4 separate regions of the Homo sapiens genome follow, and all the other regions are linked to region 3. Evidence: fine-mapped expression QTL. A gene starts in region 3. Each other region holds a variant in brackets. All regions are shown on one strand. Distances are from middle to middle. Region 1 has its middle 40 kb from the start of LINC01948. Region 2 has its middle 56 kb from the start of LINC01948. Region 3 holds the start of LINC01948 (long intergenic non-protein coding RNA 1948). Region 4 overlaps LINC01948 (long intergenic non-protein coding RNA 1948).

Region 1 (5,350 bases), 40 kb after region 3:
TTACACATATGTATCCTTTTCTGGGGCTACTCTAGAAACTAACGAGAATGATTGGCTGTTGGGAGGAAAACAGGAGTCTGGGAAAAGATGGTGGCATGGCACAGTGATAACTTTTCTGAAATTGTTTCTTTTGTTTGGAGAGATCCTCACTTTCTGAGTTGTTACTGGAGACACAGCCTGCCACCACAGAAACTGAACACTTAAGCCACTTACTCTCCTATCAACTTTTATAGCTAGGATAGAAGAACATGGCCTGGGCTCAACCAATCAGACTCTCAAGCTCTGGACTATGAAGAGAGAGCTGGTGTCAAGAAATGAAGGAAACCATTCTTGTTATGGGTGGCAACAGCTGGGGTGGTAAGAACCAATTTCTGGAGCCAAGAGAGGCTTCCAGGCAACTTGTGGCAGCCAGTAGCCTGCAACTGATGCAGAGCTGCTGGGAAGCATGATCGTGGCTATGTGTCTAGCTACTGCCTCGTCCCTTGTTCTTGCTTGTTGTGATTCTGTTTCTCCATTGCTCTTTTCAATTTTGTGAGTTTTCCAATTACCTTTCTGACATAAGCATTTAATGCTACATATTTTCTTCTAATTACAGCTTTAGCTGTACTACAAATTTTGACCTTTTGAATCTTTATTTTTATCCAATTCAAGATGTTTTCCAATTTCTCTTGTGAATTCCTATTTGACCCATGGGTTACTTAGAATATGTTGTTTAATATCCAAATATTAGGGGATTTTAAAAATCTTTTTCTGTTATTGATTTCTTCTTTAACCCTATCATGGTCAGAGGGCATACCTTGGAAGATTTAAATTCTTTTAATATTTTTGAGGTACCACTGTTGCTGAGTAAAGCGCTCTCTAAATGTCAATTAGGTCAAGTTGGTTGACAGTGCTGTTTAGGTTATCTACATTCTTAGTAATTTCCTGTCTATTTTTTCTATTTGATTACTGAGAGAGAAGTGCTAAAGACTCCAACTATAACTGGATTTGTCTATTTACTCTTTCAATTCTGTCAATTTTTGTTTCATGTATTTTGAAGCTACTTTGTTTGACGCATACGCATTTAGGATTATTATGTCTTCTTTATGAATTGACCTCTTTATTATAATCTAATACCCATTCATCCCCGGTAATAATTTCTTGTTCTTAAGTCCGGTTTGTTATTAAGCACTTTGATTTTCTTTTTGTTAGTGTTAGACTACTGTTTGTTTCTCTCCTTTTACTTTTAAACTATCTATGTCTTTAGATATAAAGTGGGTTTCTTGTAGGTAGGATAGAGTCGAGTCTTGCTATTTTCTTTTAATCCCATCTGACAATCTATGTTTTCTAATAAAGTGTTTAGAACATTTACAGTTAATGTGATTATTGATATAGTTAAATTAAAATCCACCATTTTTGTCTGCCTGCTTTTAGATTTATGATTCCGCTTGATCCTGACTTTGTAATTTTTTTCTGTAGGAATTTATTACCAATTCAGATAAATAGATATATAATGGATTGAATGTTTGTGTACCCTCAAAATACATATGTGAAACCCAAACCCCTAATATGATGGTATTTGAAGATAGGGTCTTTGGGAAGTAATTTGGTTTAAATGAAGTTGGGCCCTCTCCGTGATGGGATTAGTGTCCTTATAAGAAGAGGAAGATAAGCCAGAGCCTTCTCTCTCTTCACCATGTGAGGAAACAGCAAAAAGGTGGCCATCTGCAAGTAAGGAAGACGGCCCTCACCAGGAACCAAATCTGCAGGCATCTTGATCTTGGACTTACCAGTCTCCAAAACTGTGAGAAATGAATGTCTGTTGTTTAAGCCACCTGGTCTGTGATACTTCGTTATGGCAGCTCAAGCTAAGACAGTTAGATAGATAGTTTTTATTGTTGCTTTTAAAAAGCAAGTGTTACCCTTTAACCCATAAATTTCATTTCTTCATGTCTATTCCATAGAAAACATTGGCACATGTGCTTAAAAAGATAAGTACAACAAATTTCATCACACTATTGCTTGTAATCATAAAAAATTGAAAATAATCTAAATTTTCATCATTTGGGAAATAATTAAATAAATTTCCATATATCCATTCTATGAAAGATTATACTTCTCTTAAAGCAAATAAGATCAATGAATACATACTGATATGAAGAAAATATGCAACACATATTTAAGTTAGAAAAGCTAGTCATAGTAAAATATGTACCATATAAACAATTTATATATTAAACAAAAATTCCCACCAAATAAATATGTGCATTCCTATATGCAAATAGACATATATGAATGTAAATACTTAGAAAACGCCTGGAGATATGTGCAGTGGAGGGATAATAATGATATACAATGAAGAACAGTGTCAGATTAGGGGAATAGGTAAAGAGAAGTTCTGTTTATCTATATTGTTTTCATATTTATCAATGAAAATCTATTACTTGGGTAACTAAAAATTGAGTTGTGATTAATATTATAGTTTGAAAAGAAGAAAAAAAGACATATATATATAGTAAATTAAAAAATCAGGATTTTTTTTTCTCTTTGACATTTTATTCATCCCACTGGAGTAGGAGATTTGGGTATGGAGAATCAAAAGATTTCTTGATTCTTTGGCTCAATAAAAGACCTTTTCTGCCTTTCATTCTACAACAGCAGTAACTAAAAGCATGGTGAGTGTCCCGGGAGTACACAGTGTGTCTGGGGTGTGTCCTAGTGTGTTCGGTTATGCTCATTCATGCTGAGACATTGCTTTTTGCCCATAAA[AG/G]GAGGAATTACAACATCAGACCTGGATTGTTTTCATTTCCAAACAGCCACAAAATGTCAACACAAGACTGTCAATCTCTTGTTCTCTCCTCTCTCACAAACACTCCCTGGAACCCAGGCCAATTGAAGAAAACAGATGCAGGCAGGCACTGTTTTGACAACACTGGAAATGCCTGTGGAAGAGTAAAAATGATTAATATGCTCCTAAAAGAATAGGGAGTGCGCCTTCGGGAGAGATAATTGGATGGGCATCCCTGCTGGTAGATACCCTCTCATACCCAAACGAAGGCACACATTCTCACACAGGTTTCTTCCGAGCAACCCCTTGCTGAGTGTTTCCTGTAACATTTTCATCATGGCAAGGCAGGTGGGGTGAAAGGTTCTTGGAGGATGGGGGAAAGGCTGGAGGATAGCAAAAGTGCCATAATCTCCCTTCAGCCATAAAATGAATAATCTTCAAACAAGCAATAAAATGGATCTTGGTATCTTTTAAAACCAACAAAGAGTTCTCTGAGTTTAGAGGTATTTCATGGGATGTGGTAGTAGACAATGCAATTGCTCATTCTTAATTTATGAGACAGAAAATCTTTGTTTAGCTATCACATGTAAATTAAGGTTGTCTTTGAGTAACTTGAATTACATAACCATCTATGTGCCAAGCAGCTGTCGTTTTCCTATAAGTATATTCTCAGTTGTAAGGAGTCTGGGGGCCAGGCTACCCCCTTATGTTGTGGTGGGGGAAAGAACTTTGGGACTCGGCATCAGAAAAGTCAGCTCTGTTCCTCCTTAGCAGAGTGGTCTTTGATAGGACACTAAACCTCCTTGGACATCAGGCATCTTCATCTGTACTGCAGGGATCTGGATTAGATGAGTAGCCTTCAAGCTGTGGGTAGTTCTAGAGCAGGCTCTAGACTGTGGAACTCTGGGCCCCACCTCCACTTAAAAACTTTAACCAGAGCATCTCTGATATGATCTGTTTAATATTGGAGGTTTGAATAAATGCTTTAAAAAACAAAATTATTCAACACTCATTTTTTCAATAAATACTTACTGAGCTACTACTATGTAACTGGCAGGGGGACTCATCAATGATGGAATGAAGATACCTCCTGCTCTCATGAAGCTCACACCTTACCATTCCACTGGACCAGATGAACTTTAAGGGTCCTTTCCAGACCCAGCATCCTGCTCTTCCATAACACATAAAACAGGTGTCCTGAAGCATTGCCCAGAGAACTTAAAGTTCAACTGTAACTACACAAGGACAGACAGACCAAAAGAGACCTTAAGAGTGATGTGCATTGGAGTTAAGTTGACAAAGTGAACATTTTGGCTCTACTAGTTAGCTAGGTGACGTAACTCAAATTAATTAACCTCCTGTGCCTCAGTTTCTTTATCTATAAAATGAGGGTAATGATAGTACCTACCTCATAAGGTTGTGGTGAGGATAAAAAGACATAATGCATGCAAAGGCTTAGGGCTATGCCTAGAATTCTATAAGTTACGTTAGGTCTTATTAGCTATTATAATGTGCTTTTCCAGGCTTATATCAAGATAAAGTACACTTGAAAAGGTCCTACAAGATGGCCTAATATAGAGCAGAATTCAGCATAAGGTAACACTAACCTGGACTTCCAAGGACCTTCATAATCACTGCCAGCTGTAATATGGCCCGCAAGTGAATCCAAGGGCAAGGTTCAATTAATGTTTCATGTGCACCTAGCACAACACTTACTGTAGGGAAGGCAATCAATAAATATTTATGGAATCAATGAACCTATTCCTCTAATAGCATTTAAAGCTCTGTGGATCGTTTTAGGTTTCATTTAGGGCAATCACTGCCTGAATGCCACCTTTTTCTAAATTGTATTTTTACTTATAAAATATTTCAAACATACAGACAATAAGTTAACAGACACCTATGTACTCACCATCAAGATTACATAAATGCTACCTCAATATATTGACTAATTAGTTTCAGATAGTCTTTTAAGAAATACAATTACAGTCATGCACTACATAATGTTTTGGTCAACAACAGACCACATATATCACCTTGGTCCCATAAGATTATAATACCATATTTTTACTGTACCTTTTCTATGTGTAAATATGTTTAGATACACAAACACTTACCATTTTGTTACAATTGCCCAGTGTTCAGCACAGTATCATGCTGCACAGGTTTGTAGCCTAAGAGAAATAGGCGGTATCTTATAGCCTTGATGTGTCATAGGCTATACTTCTAGGCTTGTGGAAGTACACTCTGCAATGGCCACCCAACAACGAAATCACCTAATGACGCACTTCTCAGAAAGTGTCCCCATTGTGGCCGTGCGCAGTGACTCACACCTGTAATCCCAGAACCCTGGGAGGCCGAGGTGGGCAGATCACCTGAGGTCAGGAGTTCAAGACCAGCGTGGCCAACATGGTGAAACCGTGTCTCTATTAAAATACAAAAATTAGCTGGGCATGATGGCAGGTCCCTGTAATCCCAGCCACTCAGGAGGCCAAGGCAGGAGAATCGCTTGAACCTGGGAGGCGGAGGTTGCAGTGAGCTGAGATCACGCCACTGCACTCCAGCCTGGGCGACAGAGCGAAA
Region 2 (5,350 bases), 56 kb after region 3:
TATCATATGGCAGAAGAATAGGGGAAATCCACTGCCTTTTTGATTTGCTTGGGTAGGGGGAGAAGTGCAGGAATTCAAGATTTAATGTCTGGCTTAGAATTTGACCCAAGACCTGTGAGGCCATTGAGGAAAATCTATTTTTTGCTAGTTCCATGTGTTGCTAAAAGTGTAGAAGGAAATAATATGGTTCTGTGCAAGCATGTAACAAAGGAACCTGACCTAGGTGCAGGCCATCAGAAAGGCTTCCAAGAAGAAGGGGTAACTGAGATGACAGCTAAAGGAAGTATAGGAATTAAGTACATAATAGATGGAGGGAAGGGGAAGGAGAGTGTTGCAGGCAACATGTGCAAAAGTCCTGGGGTGGGAGAAGGCAGAGGGCTTCTCTAGGAACTACCAAAGGCCCGGGTGGCTGCAGGGCCTGGACCGAGGACAGACAAGTAGGAGATGAGCTTTCAGAGGAGAGCAGAGATTCAACCATGTAGGGCCTTGGAGGCCATGTCGAGTGAAGCAGAGGACCAGAGTGATGGGAGAATGGTCTCTTTTCTGGAAGTGGGTTCAGCAGACCTAGACCAAGAAGACAGAAAATCAGTAAGAGGCTCCCCTTGATGGTGTTTGGCCAGTGGATTCTCAGGGTAGTTCTAGGCCTGAATCCTGATTTTGAGTTGTTTCCTGGATGCTGGGAAACAGTTCCCCTCCGGCACACCCCAGCCTTCAGTAAGGCTGTGCTGTTGGCCACTACAGCTGAGATCACTTTGAGCTGCAAGGCAGGCCAAGTAATGAAACATTTGGGGTGACCAAAGAGCCAGGGAGGAGCTGGAGCAAGGAGTATGAGATGTCAACTAGAATATCTTCCGGATGGAGTACAGATGTAACTGGGAGATACCTGAATGTGCAGTCAGTGCCAAGTGGAGGCCTAGGTAGGTTTATTTGGTTATTGGGAAAAGGAGTGGCACCAGAAAATTGGAGGACTAGAGGACAGTTGGGTGAGAGCAGTTTAGTTTCTTTGATTCTGTGCTAACTTTTTTGGATATTTGCTGGAAAATGCAATTTATAGAGGCTATTTGCTCTTGGCTATGGAATGCATTTGCTGTTTCTTCTCTTTTATACGTAAGATACATCTGTGAGACCCTCTACAGGAGATGAATTCCTGGTGTAAAAGAGTCATGTGAATATTGTGGAGTAATTATTCTGAGCCAGGGGAGCAGGCTAATTAGCCTTCTGGGAATGTCCCAGTTATAGCACTAACAGCTGGCTTGGTGTGCATATTAGCTGTAAAATGTCTCCAGAGGGAGCTGGTGACTGATGCCCCCAGAGGAAAAAAGCATGCGGAATCAGAAAATGCTGGCGTTGGATGAAACCTTGGAACCATGAGGACAACCTCCCCACTGGCAGCTGAGGACAATAAAGCCAAGAGAGATTTGTGTTTGAGTGAAGGTCGCAGCCAGTCAGTGGCTGAAGAGGGACAAGAGCCCTAGTTCTTTGAGTCTTTGTCTCCAGTCTTTTTATCAGGTAACTGCACAGCATCTCATCAATCCCCTCACCACCTAGACCTCCTTCGTCCAACAACCTCTTCAAACCTGCAGCTTTCGGGGTCTTCATTTCCTCTCCTAAAGAACGTAACAAGAACACTAAAAGTTGAACAACCTTGTGAAGCACAGAAAGAGAGGAACTACAAATGGAAAAAAAAAATCAAAGTGAGTTGAGGTTGCTATAAACTAACTTGGGCTCTGAATGAAATAAATTGCAATTTTAATTTTTTCCTTGGCTCATTTTCTCCACTTATTTTAGTGTTATTATCTTTTGCTTGGTTAACTGCATTTTTGTAAGACATCTCAAACTTTTATGAAGCAAAGTTGAGTGGACAAATATGAAATACAAAACTACATCTGTGGACATGGAGCAAGAAGAAATATAGAAGAGGAATATAGTTCCCGTCTGCCTGGAAGCTGGGTATAGGCACCATTGACATCACTCTTGGGGTCAAAGATCGATGCTGGGAATTTTGGTTTACTTCTTGTTTCCCACTTTCTTGCCATTTACATGGCACAGAATCTCCTTTCAAGTCCCACATTTTCTAGGCCAGACCAGTTATGTTGCTTTGTGTATGTGTGTGTGTGTGTGTGTGTGTGTGTGTGTGTGTATGTGTATACACTCTCTATACACTTTAAAACTTGGGACTACTTAAGAGTTCAAGACAAATAACCAAAGGAGTGGAACGAAGATCTCAGAGGGAGTGAGAGAGAAAGTAC[A/G]TAGAGTGTATGGGGGAACTTGATATATGAAAACAATGCTAATACAAATCAATAGGGAAAGGACAGACTGTTTAGTAGTGGTGTTAGGAAATCGGAGTCACTATATTTAAAAAAGCAAAACAAAATTCATACTTTATACCAATGCAAAGGAAAACTCTAAGTGGACCAAAGACCTAAATGTGAAGGTAAAACTATACAGCTAGTAAAAAAAAATGTAGACGAATATAATTGAGAATGGGGTAGAGCATTGTAAAAAGACCCAAAACCCGCAACAATGATGGACAGAGATAGATGACAGATTAGGAAAAGAATTACCCTCATGAACAAAATATTTTTATGACTTAATTGACAAAGGGTTTATACAGGGAGTATGAAAGGATTTCTGCAAATCAATAAGAAAAAGACAAAAATGCAAGACAATAATGGTCAAGATATAAAAAGACAAGTCACAGAAGAGAAAACCCAATTGCTAACATATATATGAAGATATGACAAATAAATAGTAAGTGGAGAAATACATATTAAAGCAGCAATGACATATGCTTTATTCTCATCAAATTCATAAAATTAGAAATGTAATAATGTCAAATTTTTTGGAAGGCAGGCAGTGTATGAGGAAACGAAGTCTTGTGTGCCACTGGTGGGAATGCAGTGTGGACATTCTGGGGAACAAGGTGGCAGTGCCTAGTCAACTACTGTGCATAAATCTTACTTTGTACAGTAAAATAACCCTTGAAACATTATCACAAAGGTCCAGAAAAGTACGAGTATGCATGCATATCATTGTGTCGCTTTCTTGGCAGTGGGGAATTGGAGGCAAATTAGGAGTCCACAGCCAGAGAAATTGTGTAGCAAAATAACGTGAAATATAGAATTTGATACAAACTAATATTAAAAACATAATGATGGGTAAAAAAAATAAGAGAAAGAACAAAGTTTTTCTTAGCACAATACGGTGTATGTAAAGTAAAAATACATACATGCAAAAATAGCAGATAATTTGTAAGGAAAAGCACAATTTCAAAGATAGATATCAAACATTCAGGGTGTAGCCTAACATGAGGATGGGGCTAGGGATGGGGGTAGTTATTCAGGATGACCTGGAATACATTTCAAAATGAAACAAGTGGCCAAGCTCAGTGGCTTACACCTGTAATCCCGGCACTTTGGTAGGCCAAGGCAGGTGGATCACCTGAGGTCAGAAGTTCAAGACCAGCCTGACCAATATGGTGAAACCCTATCTCTACTAAAAATACAAAAATTAGCGGGGTGCGATGGTGGGCACCTGTAATCCCAGCTATTTGGGAGGCTGAGGCAGGAGAATTGCTTGAACCCTGGAGGCGGAAGCTGCAGTGAGCCAAGATTGTGCATCTGTACTCCAATCTGGGCAACAGAGCGAGACTCCATCTCAAAACAGAAAAAATAAATAAATAAATAAGAAACAAGAGCAGGCCATGGCATGAGTGATGGTGATACATCATGAAATTAAACTGATGATTCAATTAGCCCTCTGTAACTGAGGTCCAACACAAATATAGAAAATAAAGTAAAGTAAAATAAAATAAAACCATCAAAGGATCTTAAATGTTCCTTCTAATTCTAAGAACTGCAGAAAAATAAACATTTGATGTTAGGTTCATTGGAGACCCCTTTTTCCTCTCTGGTTGTTTGCTTTCTTATTAGTAAAAAAAATTTTAATTAGGGAGGCATGAGTGCTAGATATCTTCCAATATTGTTTACTCCTTCTTCTATAGTGAAAGTAGCCTTTATTATAACTAGACATGGCTATCTGGAATAAAGATGACATTGTTTAAGACTCCCTTGCAGCTAGGAGTGGCCACTAAGTTCTGCTCAATGGGTTTGAGGAGAAACAAGGTGTTTCTCCTCTGAAACATCGTTAATGGTAGAAGCATAAACTTTCTCCCTCTTCCTGCATCCTGCCAGCTGCAATGTTGGCTATGGTAGCCAGCCACTTTGGAATATGTGATTCATTCTGTCAGTTGGCAAGAATTTGGTACTTAAATGGAAGCAAAAACAAAAACACAAAGCAAGAAAAGCAAGAAAACTGCCATGTATTGGCCGGGCACAGTGGCTGATGCTTGTAATCCCAGGACTTTGGGAGGCCAAGCCATTCAGATCACTTGAGGCCTGGAGTTCGAGACCAGCCTGGCCAACATGGCAAAACCCTATCTCTAGTAAAAATACAAAAATTACTCAGGGTGATGGTGCACACCTGTAGTCCTGGCTACTTGGAAGACTGAGGCAGGAGAATTGCTTGAGCCCGGTAGGTGGAGGCTGCAGTGAGCAGAGATAGGCCACTGCAGACTCTGTCTCAGAAAAGAAAAATGCCATCCATGTATTATTGAGCCATATGAAACTGACATTTTTGTTTTTGTTTTCTTTTTGATTTCTCAGAAGATGAAACTGACATTTTTATGTCAACAATGACCAAATATCAGCAATTTCATATGGGTTAATCTAATATACAGATTCCTTTGCAATAAGTATTAAAACACTCACTTTTCTCCCCTCATTCTGGGAAAAAGGATGGCTAGCCTGGGAGCTTCTTGAGATCATAGACCCCCTCTTTTTCAAACATTTTTAGGGTTCTTCTAAAACTTCTTTTTAAACTAGTGATATTAGATACATAAACAATGACACCCTAAGAGGGTGTCCCTCCGAAGCAGTCCCTGAGACAGGATTCAAGTACGGGTAGTTTGGGGAGGTGATCCCAGGAAATGTTTATAAGGGCATGGAGAAGTGAGCTGGTGAAGGCAAGGCAGCCAGTATACAGGGATTACTACTTAGCAAATTCCAATTGTTGGCAAGAGGAGCTTACCCCACTGGGGAGCTCTGGGAGCCAGTGTAGAGCATTGCTGGTCTTTCCACCTGAGGAGCCAGGGAGCTGGAGGGAGCTGGAGCAGTCATTGCTGCAAGGTGCTGGCATGGGCAGGCAGGCATCAGTTCTTCAACACTTCCAGCTTGCCCTGGGGCAGACAGGTTCCAGCAACCAGAGGAAGCCTCCCAGACAAAGAGGTTCAAATGCTGGTAGTTCTGGGTGGGCAGCCAGTATTACAATAGTAAGGCCCTAGAAGACTTGA
Region 3 (5,350 bases):
GGGGCCGATCAGGTTTTCCAGGAGCACTTGCCATGGAAGCCAACAGGTTGGGCAAGGAAGTTACTGGAGTGTCTGGAAGAGCAGGACATTAAGGGAAAGCACAGGGGGTTGGAGCCAGGGAGGCTCCGCCATTAGATGGAGAGAGGCAGAGTGCAAGCAGGAAATAGAGCAAGCCATTAGGAGTCGGAGGCCAGGTCTGCAATCCTATAAGGCAAAGACAATGGGTTCCGCAAGAGGCATTGACCATGGATGGGGCTGGGTGGCCAGAGCTCATTATTCTTACGGGTTGTCCCATTGGCTGTGAGGACAGTCAGAATGGAAGAGGCAGAGTCTGGGCAGGCAAAGAACAGCCTTTCTCAATAGGTTTCGGAGATAGCTTATTAAATGTGTGTTCAGGGGATTTTTAAACTTCACCCAGATATCTTTTAAAATATATTGATATCAAGAATATATTATAAAACCTGAACCCTGGCAAATGCAAAGTCTCCCTCCTTTGAAAATAGTCACCATAGTTCATGTTCTGTCCTGTTTTTTTTTTTAAATATATAATTTCAACTTTTATTTTAGATTCAGGGGTACATGTGCAGATTTGTTACATGGGTATATTGTGTGATATACATGTGATGCTGAGGTCTGGGGTAAAATGATCCTGTTACCCAGGCAGTGAGCATAGTAGCCAATAGTTATTTTTCAACCCTTGCTTCCCTCTAGTATCCCCCAGTGTCTATTGTTGCCATCTTTATGTCTATGTGTACCTAATATGTAGCTCCCATATATAAGTGAGAACATGCACTGTTTGGTTTTTCTGCTCCTGCATTAATTTGCTTAGAATAGTGGCTTCCAGCTGCATCCATGTTGCTACAAAGGACATGATTTCCTTCTTTTTTATTGCTGCATAGTATTCCATGGTGTATATGTACCAGTCTTCCATTGACGGACACCTAGGCTGAGTCAATGTCTTTGCTATTGTGAATAATGCTGTGAAGCACATAAAAATGAATGTCTTTTTGGTAAAACGATTTCTTTTCATTTAGATATGTACCAGTAATGGGATTGCTGCTGGGTCGAATGGTAGTTTTGTTTTATTTGAGAAATCTCCAAACTACTTTCCCCAGTGGCTGAATTAATTTACATTCCCACCAGCAATGCCAGCAATGTATATGTGTTCCCTTTTCTCCACAGCCTTGCCAGCATCTGTTGTTTTTTTGACTTTTTAATAATAGTCATTCTGAGTGGTGTGAGATCTCATCGTGGTTTTGATTTGCATTTCTCTGATAATCAGCAATGCTGAGCATCTTTTCACATTTGTTGGCTGCTTGCATGTCTTCTTTTGAGAAGTGTCTGTTCATGTCTTTTGCCCACTTTTTAACAGGGTTGTTTGTGTTTGTGTTTTGCTTGCATAGCTGCTTTCCATGTTCTTTTCTATGTTATCTAGAACTATAATAAAAGTAACTGCCCAGCTCTTTGGGAGGCTGGGGCAGGCGAATCACTTGAGGTCAGGAGTTCAAGGGTAGCCTGGCCAATATGGTGAAACCCTGTCTCTATTAAAAATACAAAAATTAGCCGAGTGTGGTGGCACACACCTGGATTCCCAGCTACTCAGGAGGCTGAGGCAGGAGAATTACTTGAACCCCCAAGGCGGAGGTTGCAGTGAGCCCAGATCGCACCACTGTACTCCAGCCTGGGAGACAGAGTGAGACAGCGTCTCAAAAAAACAAAAAAAAAGGAACTAGGTCTAAGACAGGGTACCCAATCTATTTCTAAGAAGATGCTACTTCTCATTTTCTGGAAACACTGTAGCAAAGAGGAAGGGACAATAATGTCCCATAGTGGGTGGGCAGATATAAAAACCCCAAGATGTTCATTTCAGGCCCAAAGTGACTACTGCTTGCTACCCTCACCTTTCTCTGCTGGAACACTACCAGCCCCTGTGAGATGTGGGTGATCTCATGGGTGTTTGGAAGAATCCCAGTACCAGGCTAGGGGATCATCAAAGCTGACTGGATCAGTCCTGCTAGATCAGGAAGCCTTACTGAGTAAGGCTAATGCCAGGTCTCCAAACTGCCACTGAGCATCAGGGGTCCTTCCCACAATATCTTTGTTTCTCTAGGTCAAGAAATGATGCCGTCCCTAGAAACAGCGCAATGTTTATGTAAGAGTCAACTCAGAGACCTTGTGCCGGTACAAGAGGTACTATCTCATCCTGCTCCCCTGCAGGCACTAAATGAGACAAAATTCCTTCTGGAGTTCAAGTCCAGAAGGCTGACTATGCTGTTAATGGCAGTATACTGAGTTAAGAGAATTCGGGGAGACGGGAATATTGGGTCCACGATTCTGCCTGGAGGGAAGAATTGTGGTCTCCTCAGTCCTGTGGAGTAGGGGTCCGGGCTGATGATAGCGCCTCCTGGTGCAGAGTATACAAACAGCTGAAGATCTGCCTGGACCCCCTACCCCTCTCTTTTTTCCTTGTGGAAACTGTGTATAATTTGGAAAGAGCAAGGACATCCTGGCTCGCAGCTGGCCAGCTCCACCTGCGACCTGGACAGCCTCGCCCCTCCCTGCGGAGCCAGGCGAGTTCACAGGGCTGCCTCCGCTTCTTGCAGCATGTCTGCTCTCCTGGCCTGGCCTCTCCAGACCTTTCCCTCCACGGGCAGCGATTTCCAAGGCTCTCAAGACTCCAAACCACGTCGTTTTGGGAGTGAAAAAGTGAAAGCACACATCGTGTCATTAGAGCAGCAGGGACCAGCTGCTGGGTCAACACTTCCGAAAACAGCGCTTCCTGGGGAGCGACCGGAGCATCTCAGAATCTACGGTTTGACCTCCTGCCAATTCTCATGGTGTCTTTATACATTTTAACACAAAAATAAGATGTTTTCACTTGAGAGCGAGAGGGAAATGAACTGTTAAGGTGCTCTGTCGCCAGAGAAGTGAAGTTGGGGGGTAAATTTTAGGAACCCCCGACCCCCCTACCGAGGGAGGATGCGAAGTCGGCTCCTGAAACGCGAGCGAAACCCCCGCGCGCTTCCCGGGGTGACGCACATGTCTGTGTTTCTTTTTGCTTTTGACCAAAAGTCGTAGGGAGGGTCCTCCTCAGGGGACAGTCGCGGGCGCTGTGCCAGTCCTTCCTGTCCCCCCACCAAAGTCAACCCCAGCCCCAGGCCAAGGCCGCCCCGGCCGGAAGAGCCAGCTGGTGGGGGCCGTGGGGGGCGCGGCGGGCGCGCGGGGCTGGGGGCGGCGGGTCCGCCTACCCCGCCTTCCTGGCGTGGAGAGTTTCGGCCCCAGCCTCGCTGGCGTGGACTCTGCCTGAACCACGCCTGGGATGCTTTTGCCAAAGGAAACTTGGGGGGTGGGGGCGGGGCGGGCGACGATTCCCCCCCTCCCCACCCCGCCCCTGTCCTCCTCGGCCGGGAGCCGCGCTGGGCCGGGGTCAGCTGGCTGCCTTTGTGGCCGCTTCCCAGGAAGGAAGAAGCGTTGTCTGCAGATCAGTTGATCCGCGGGCTTTCCTGTGTCGGAATGCCGCCGTTTTCCGGGGACGGCTGCCACCCCCGTGATTCCCAGCCGGGGCTGCCGGCCGTGCGTAAGAGCCGGATAAATAGGCCATTGTGAGGCCGTTCAGATCTAGGTTTCTTATCACAGTATCCACCAGCGAGAAGCAGATTCGGCCCCTGATGGAGCTCATCCCAGCTTCTCTTTTCTTTCTCTGCACAGTTACAGCCATTTCTATTTTTTGCAGTTGTAAAGGGAATATTCAGAAAGCAATTTATTGTGTGCGACAGGGACTTAAGGGAGCGTGTCTGCAGACCGTGTTCCCACCGGGGTTGGGGTTCGCAACCTTGAGTTTAGCTCGATGGGCTTTGGTGTGTGAGGTTTCTACCCGCCCATCGCCCAAGGCAGGCACGTCCTTAAACACCAGCTGCAAGTATCAGGAGGGCAAGTCCGTAGGTCTCTAGATCCAGTGGGTTGGCTTTTTGGTGTTTGTTTTGTTTTGTGATAGCCTTGATCTGCTTTGTGGACACTGAAAATTTGAAGGTCGAGGGAACACGAGTTAAAACAGGTCAAATGAGGGAGGTTCTGAGGAAGGCTGGTGGTTTGGGAAGAGCTGATGCTGATGGTGTTGAGTGTCTGTTTTGTTTTTGTTTTTCTGCTGCAGCAGCCGCAGGGCTGTGGAGGGGTTGGGGTTTCCTGGTGTTTGACTTATTGGATAGTCATTGCTTGGCATGGCTGGGTTTTTGGGCCTGTGACCTGTGCTCAGAAGCCGACGTGTGCTTAGTTGGATGCTCTACTGACACCATGTTGACATGCTTAATAATTTTTGAAAAGGACCCTGCATTTTCAGTTTGAACTGCACCCGGCAAATTATGTAGCCAGGGCTGTTAGTAGACTCTCAAATTCATTTGAATAAGCTTGAATAACGGTTTGAATCAGTTCCCATTTGAGATAAGGGCCTGTGGTTAGTCGATAAGCTGCTGAAGGTGATTCTCTTAGTTTTCAGAGTATCTACTGTGGCTGTGCTGACGGATTAGAGCACGTTCCACAAACTAAACCAGGCTGCCTGGCATCGTGGGCATCTGCAGGGAGCGGCACCAGCCCCCTGCCAGAACAGAAGAGTGCAGCCAGGCAAGATTAGCTTCGTTCCGCCTGCTGAGACATCATCCTTTAGAAAGCATAGAATGTGCAGCCCTCAAAAACCTAGTGATTTCCTTAATAAGATGCTTATTTGTGCAGTTATTGCTTCTCTTTTCTTTTCCACTCTGAAATGCCTGGCTTCCAGGGTTGAAAGTGGATTCATCCTACCAAAAATATTCTATCGTTTTTGGGCACTGTGTTAATACTTCCAGCACCTGCTAAGGACTGAATGTTTGCATCCTCCCAAGATTCAGATATTGAAAATCTAACCTTCAATGTGATGGAATTTAGAGGGGGGTCTTTGGAGAGTAATTAGGTTTAGATGATGGCATGAGGGTGGGGCTCCGTGATGAGATTAGTCTCTATAAGAAGAGAAAGCAAAACTAGAGCCTTTTCTCCCTTCACCTGCATGAGGACGCAGCAAGAAGGTAGCTATCTGCAAGCCAGGACCAAGGCCCTCATCGGGAACAGAATCTGCTGGCACCTTGCTCCTGGACTTCCCAGCCTGCAGAACTGGGAGAAATAAATGTCTGTTGTTGAAGCCATCCAGCCTACAATATATATTCTGTTATAGCAGCCTGAGCTGACTAAGACAACCCCTAAACAACTCTTGAGAAATTACTCTAAATCAGGGACTTTGCATTTCTCAGAGACAGGGGAAGGGAAGTTGGCAATAGTTCATAATAAATAAGGAAAATGCTATCTTTTTAGAAATAGTTTGTAT
Region 4 (5,350 bases), 25 kb after region 3:
CCATTTGAGGCATGCACCTGGTATGCTGCTTTTAGCTGAAAGTAAAGGAAAAGGTAACCTAAAATTGGAAGTTATCTCAGATATGAAGAAGTACCATGATAGGGAAGTTCCAGGACGGGTTTATTAAAGCAGTTAAATGATGTCTACAGGCCCAAGAGAACCCCCACCCCCACTCCAAGGGCACATTTAATTTCATAAACTTGGACAGATAATCTTTCCCCAGAGTCTTGCTGGCATTCACCACGGTAGACGTAAGCATGGCAAGGGTTTTTTCCTTTGCATATGTGGACTGTCATATGTTGGCTGGAATTCATGAGGTTCTGCAGAGGTCTGTGGTGGGCAGGGCTCACATGCTACTTCTTTCTCCACTGAGATATAAAGTGTGTTCTGAATTCTGAGCCATAGCTAACCCCATCCCTGGCACATAGTAAGTTCTTCATAAACATTTGCTGGATAAATGAAAGAAATAATGGAAGGACTGACTGGTGGAAAGATTGAAGTACAGAAAGAGGGAAGGAAGGAAGGGAAGGAGGGAAGGAGGGAAAGAAGAAGGAAGGAAGGAAGGAGGGAGGGAGGGAGGGAGGGAAAGAAGGAAGGAAGGAAGGAAAGAAGGCAGGTAGGCAGGCAGGCTAAGTGTAGATCAGACAACAGTTCCTGATGTGGGGACGTGCTTAAGAGAAACAGGTAGGATTGGAGTTCTAATACCTAACCTGTGTCTTTTATATAATATCTATACATCTAATATGTATTAGATGTTTTAAAAAGGTAAATTAAATATTCAGTGTGGTTCCTACCCTGGAGGATGTTTTCAGTAGTTTCTCCCAGGTGCAAAGGGAGGAGGCCTGTCTGAAACTCTGAGAAAAGGGCTTTGTGAATTGCAAAGCAGAAAACAAATGGTGATTAACTAAGGCTCCACAAGCAAGGGCAGGTCTCCGGAGAGCAGTCTCAAGAGATAACTCTTCTGCCTTCTTTTTGTCGTTTGAATCCTCAAAATTGTCCCTCGCTTAGACCAAATCAACCTCAAACAGTCTATGATTAAAATTTCCACTCTGAGAGTCTGAGCAACGTAGGAATTGTAGGAACTGGACCATCTGGAGATAATTTATAAATAACACTCGCCTTTCAAATGGGCTCTGTCTTCCCAAAGAGTCCTCTGTCCTGTTAGTAGGAGCTCTGCCAAGGCACAAACCACTAAATTGGGCCAGGGACACTGAAATTGCTGGCGGGAGCTTCTTATCTCTGATTCTTCTAAGAATTTGGGACGCTTCACTGAAACATTTGTTTTTCCTCATGTAAAATGTAAGCTGAAAGTTATGGGCTGTCTTTAGGTTGGGAAAAGCTTTTAGGATTTTACTGCATGGGACTCACTCAGCTTTTGCTTTGTCTACTGCTAAAATAATTGAAACGTGAATCAAATACTAAATATAACCCAAAATATCCTGGATACATAGTAAGCTTTGAGAGCATTAAAACATGACTAAGCCCTTTGCTCCTTTTTCAGTGAACCTGTTGACATGAAAGGGAGCCACTAATACCATCTTTTTCTCCCCTCTCCTCCAGGTCAGTCCTAAGCAGCACAACCTTAGCCACTGTGGAGCTAGTGCCAGCTGTGTGAATCTGTACAGTGGTGCAGTGTTAAGGGCAAAGAGCACTTTGGAGCCAAGGCAGACAAAACTGCGCAGAGCTCCCAGGCCTGGGTGATGATCCCTCTTCCCAGACATCTGAGGAGTTGCCATATTGATGTTCTCTCATTGTTTCGGCTGAGCTGGAATGATCGAAATAATTCTGGGACTATGACAAGTCTCACCAGACCTCGTTATGGATCAGGGAGAGGTGAACTTTAAAAATAATCAAGTTCAAAGGAGAGCCCTGTCACCTGTGATCAGTTTCGTTAGCAGAATCCCACCAGCCTTGCTCCCCATATCCAAAATGCACTCACCTCCCACAAGGCCCTTCCCTGCTCTTGGTTGGAGCCTCTGAGTTCAGACACATGCCTGAAGTTAGTTTCTCTGGACTGGGGAGCTTTCCCATTGCTTCCCAAGGACCTCCTAATGGCAAGTGATAAAACTGATTGGCAGGTGCGTGAGAGAGTCATAGTCAACTCATGGCATGAGAAACAGAAAGTTGATAAAGCAGAGCTTTTCTAGAGATTGAGCTGAAAACTTTTTATTTGGGAAATATACAACGTAGCAGAGAGCTGTGCTATTTAAAACGTAATGGGAGGTCGAGGTAGGCATATCACTTGAAGTCAAGAGTTCGAGACCAGCCTGGCCAACATGGTGAAACCACATCTCTACTAAAAAATATATACAACAATTAGCTGGGCATGGTGGCAGGCACCTGTAGTCCCAGCTACTCAGGAGGCTGAGGCAGGAGAATCGCTTGAACCCAGGAGGTGGAGGCTGCAGTGAGCCGAGATCGTGCCACTGTACTCCAGCCTAGGTGACAGAGTGAGACTCCGTCTCAAACAAAACAAAACAAAACAAAACAAAACAAAAATGTAATGGGCAGGCTATCTGCCTGGAGACAAAGTACATGCCCATTTCTGAGAACATTATTTGTCCTGGAAAGGTAGTTTCATAGTGGGATTCTTCTTCCCTGCTTCTTCCTGGGTCCCACAAGGTTGATCTTCCTCCATACCTTTCTTTTGTTCCCTAACATTTTACAGCATTGATTTTCTAACAAAAGGAAGGAAAGTTCCTAGGGAGGTATATCAACATTTCTAAAAGGAAATGTATGTATACTTTGAAAATACATATTTCACATTATAATAGAATTTCATAATTTAGAAATGAAAAGTACATCACTCTAATTATATTTCTCTTGATGAAAGTAAAATTTGACAAGTTATCTCTGCTGACAAGAATCTGCATCAGTGAATCTGCAAAGAGGGCACCAGTTAGGGGTGGGGCCTCATCTTCCTAGATGGCTCAGGTCTAGAGCCTGTTGGCTGGTCAGACATAACATTTTTATGTTTATCAAATAGGAAAATGATTTTTTAAGGAC[C/G]ATCTGGGCACAGGTAACAGGAGATGCTTGTATCTCTCCTGTAGGGTCAGTCTTCAGGAGACGGAGCTGAGACAGGAGTCCTACTGGCAAGGTAGGAGCAGCACACTAGGGCTTTATGGTCCAGGATGCTTAAGAGAAAGAGAAATGTACGTGAAGACAGCCTGGCATCCACTACACAGGCCCTGCCTTCACCGTGTGGATGTAGTTGCCCTGAGAGTGGACAGAGAAAGAAGAATGAGAGCAGTGAGTCAGCGAAGGGCCTCAGAATGGGGATCTCAGGACCTTCAGAGCTGGCAGCCATGTGGCTGCCTCAGGACACAGTCATGCAGCACGTGGTGTCTGAGGGGTAGACAGTGATTACCTCCTAATCTCCCACAGATGGTGCCCTGGGCAGGGGTGGGGATGAGGACCCACCCAAGCAGGCACCTAGAAGAATTTGATCCTGGAACTCTTAGCAGGGAGGCAGTTCTGTGTAGGCAACTTCATGGCATCACCTCTGCAGGGCCTTGTGACCCTACCCAGGGTTATTAGTCCCACATTCTTCAAGAGCAATGGCTGGAGAATGGCAAGAGTTGAATGGGAGTGGGGACACAGAGACATTGTTAGGACTATAGCAAGACAGATCTAATGCATGAGTCTTACAGTGAAAAGAAAAGAAAGCCCAGTGAGCAGTGCCAAATGCCACAGAATCAAGTGCCTCCCTGCTGAAGATGGGACAAGTGAGGACAACCAGGGCACTGTTTTGGTGGAGGAGCTGGAAGGACCCTGGGTTGGTGAAAGAACATGACCTTAGCAGAGGCCCATCACGTTAGGAAGGGGCACCAAGCTGCAGAACAGCAGGATGGGCACAGCTGGCACAAAGCCCATCCCAAGGCACAGAGAGAGAAGGAGGGACTTGGGGCGTTGCAGTCCAGTGAGTTCCCACTAGGGAACTCAGCACTTAAGACTCCTAGAGTATGGTCTCTCAGGCTGATGGACAGGAAGCCTGGAGATGGGGCTAAGTATGTGGAACAGGGACAGAAACCTCAAGGGTTCCCGAGAAACTGGGACAGGCCGGACAAGGCAAGATGCTCCCCACTTGTAGGTCCAACAAGAAGCACGTTCTTCCAAAGATTTAGGGTGTTGTGAAGGTGGCAGAGGGCAAGCAGAATACTCCATTTTAAAGAACACTCAGCCATATATTAGCAGAAGTGCAAATCAATCTTTTGGAAACAGCATCCCACCTTCCTCGGACATTGATATTTAAGGCAGGGACTGCTATGACATTAGCCAGACTATCCACACACCAAACCAGGCTGTCCCCGAGGCTCTGATTCACAGCTATTTACCAACACCCTGAATGTGTTATCTGAAACAGCAATCAGGAGAGAAGGCTACACGAAAATCTAGACAGGTCGCACCTTCTTCAACGTTTTGAATTGCAAAGTAAGAGGTGACACCAGCCCAGGGAGGTGTTGTGACCGTGGAAGGAGAAAGAATGAGCAATAATCTCTGGCACACCTCTGGGCAAAACGCTAAGCAGCACAAAAAGTGCGAGAGCATAGGACACATGGAGAAGAGAAGGTATGGAGCAGAAATGGCATTTCACTGGGAACTGGGATAAATAGGATCTTTCTTCACTCTAACTAGCTTGGTACATTTGGGAAAGTGATTTAATGTCCCTGAGACCTGGCTTCTTCCCTTGTAGAACATGAGAGTTGATGCAGGTGTTCCTTGGGATCCTCCTCATCCTAGTATTCTGTGAACGTGGGGGTCTGGGTAGTTCACAGACTGGGACACCCTCTCCCAGATTTTCCAGAGTAAATATTACTCCCCTGATGCAGCCTCAGCCAATAGCATGATCCTTCCCATCTCAGGAAATGTGTCCAATCAGAAAACATAGAGGGTGGATCCATCGGTGAGAGATCTTGCCGAGCGGTGTCAAGACTTCCCCGTGGCCCTATGTTTACCATGCATTCGATTCTCGGTGTGGTCCGGGCCTTTCTCACCTCATCCATTTCACCTACCAAGAAAGGAAATGACATTCATCCGGGCTGGGGCACTATTGCGCAACAAAACAAGCCAACCTGTAATTAAGGAGAACTGAACGCTGATGCTGAGCCCAGCATCTTGGGGAAAGACTGCTGAGAGTTTCGCTTGGCTTTGGAATTCATTTATCAGATAACATGCGCTGGATTGACCTAAACTGCAACATGGCCCTTGTAATTATACCGTGCTTTTGCTTTGGAGCCTGAGGGAAATGTGGAAGGCGCTGGAGTCTGAGCTCTGGGTCACCTGAACGTCCTGTGATTATGCCCGGTCTCACATTCAAAAGGAGAGATGGGAGTGTTTGTATTTTACCCAC

The links. PIP is the estimated chance that this variant, and not a neighbour inherited with it, causes the effect. A credible set is the group of variants that fine-mapping cannot tell apart.
Region 1: its variant is the best candidate, but not a certain one, in a credible set for the expression of LINC01948 in whole blood (INTERVAL, PIP 0.87).
Region 2: its variant is the best candidate, but not a certain one, in a credible set for the expression of LINC01948 in whole blood (INTERVAL, PIP 0.79).
Region 4: its variant is the best candidate, but not a certain one, in a credible set for the expression of LINC01948 in unexposed skin (GTEx, PIP 0.74).

Annotation. Positions count from the first base shown.
Region 1 is chr5:56,439,012-56,444,361 of GRCh38, reverse strand. No RefSeq gene overlaps it. Among named protein-coding and RNA genes, the nearest start is that of LINC01948, 40 kb to the left of the region's middle. The variant AG/G (reference allele first, on the strand shown) is at 2,749.
Region 2 is chr5:56,422,822-56,428,171 of GRCh38, reverse strand. No RefSeq gene overlaps it. Among named protein-coding and RNA genes, the nearest start is that of LINC01948, 56 kb to the left of the region's middle. The variant A/G (reference allele first, on the strand shown) is at 2,250.
Region 3 is chr5:56,479,015-56,484,364 of GRCh38, reverse strand. It overlaps LINC01948 (long intergenic non-protein coding RNA 1948), which reads left to right and starts at 2,596. Exons shown (of 5, transcript NR_104664.1): 1 at 2,596-2,812. RefSeq lists enhancers at 2,668-2,827, 4,028-4,197.
Region 4 is chr5:56,454,154-56,459,503 of GRCh38, reverse strand. LINC01948 (long intergenic non-protein coding RNA 1948) reads left to right here. Exons shown (of 5, transcript NR_104664.1): 5 at 1,561-1,709. Among named protein-coding and RNA genes, the nearest start is that of LINC01948, 25 kb to the left of the region's middle. The variant C/G (reference allele first, on the strand shown) is at 3,007.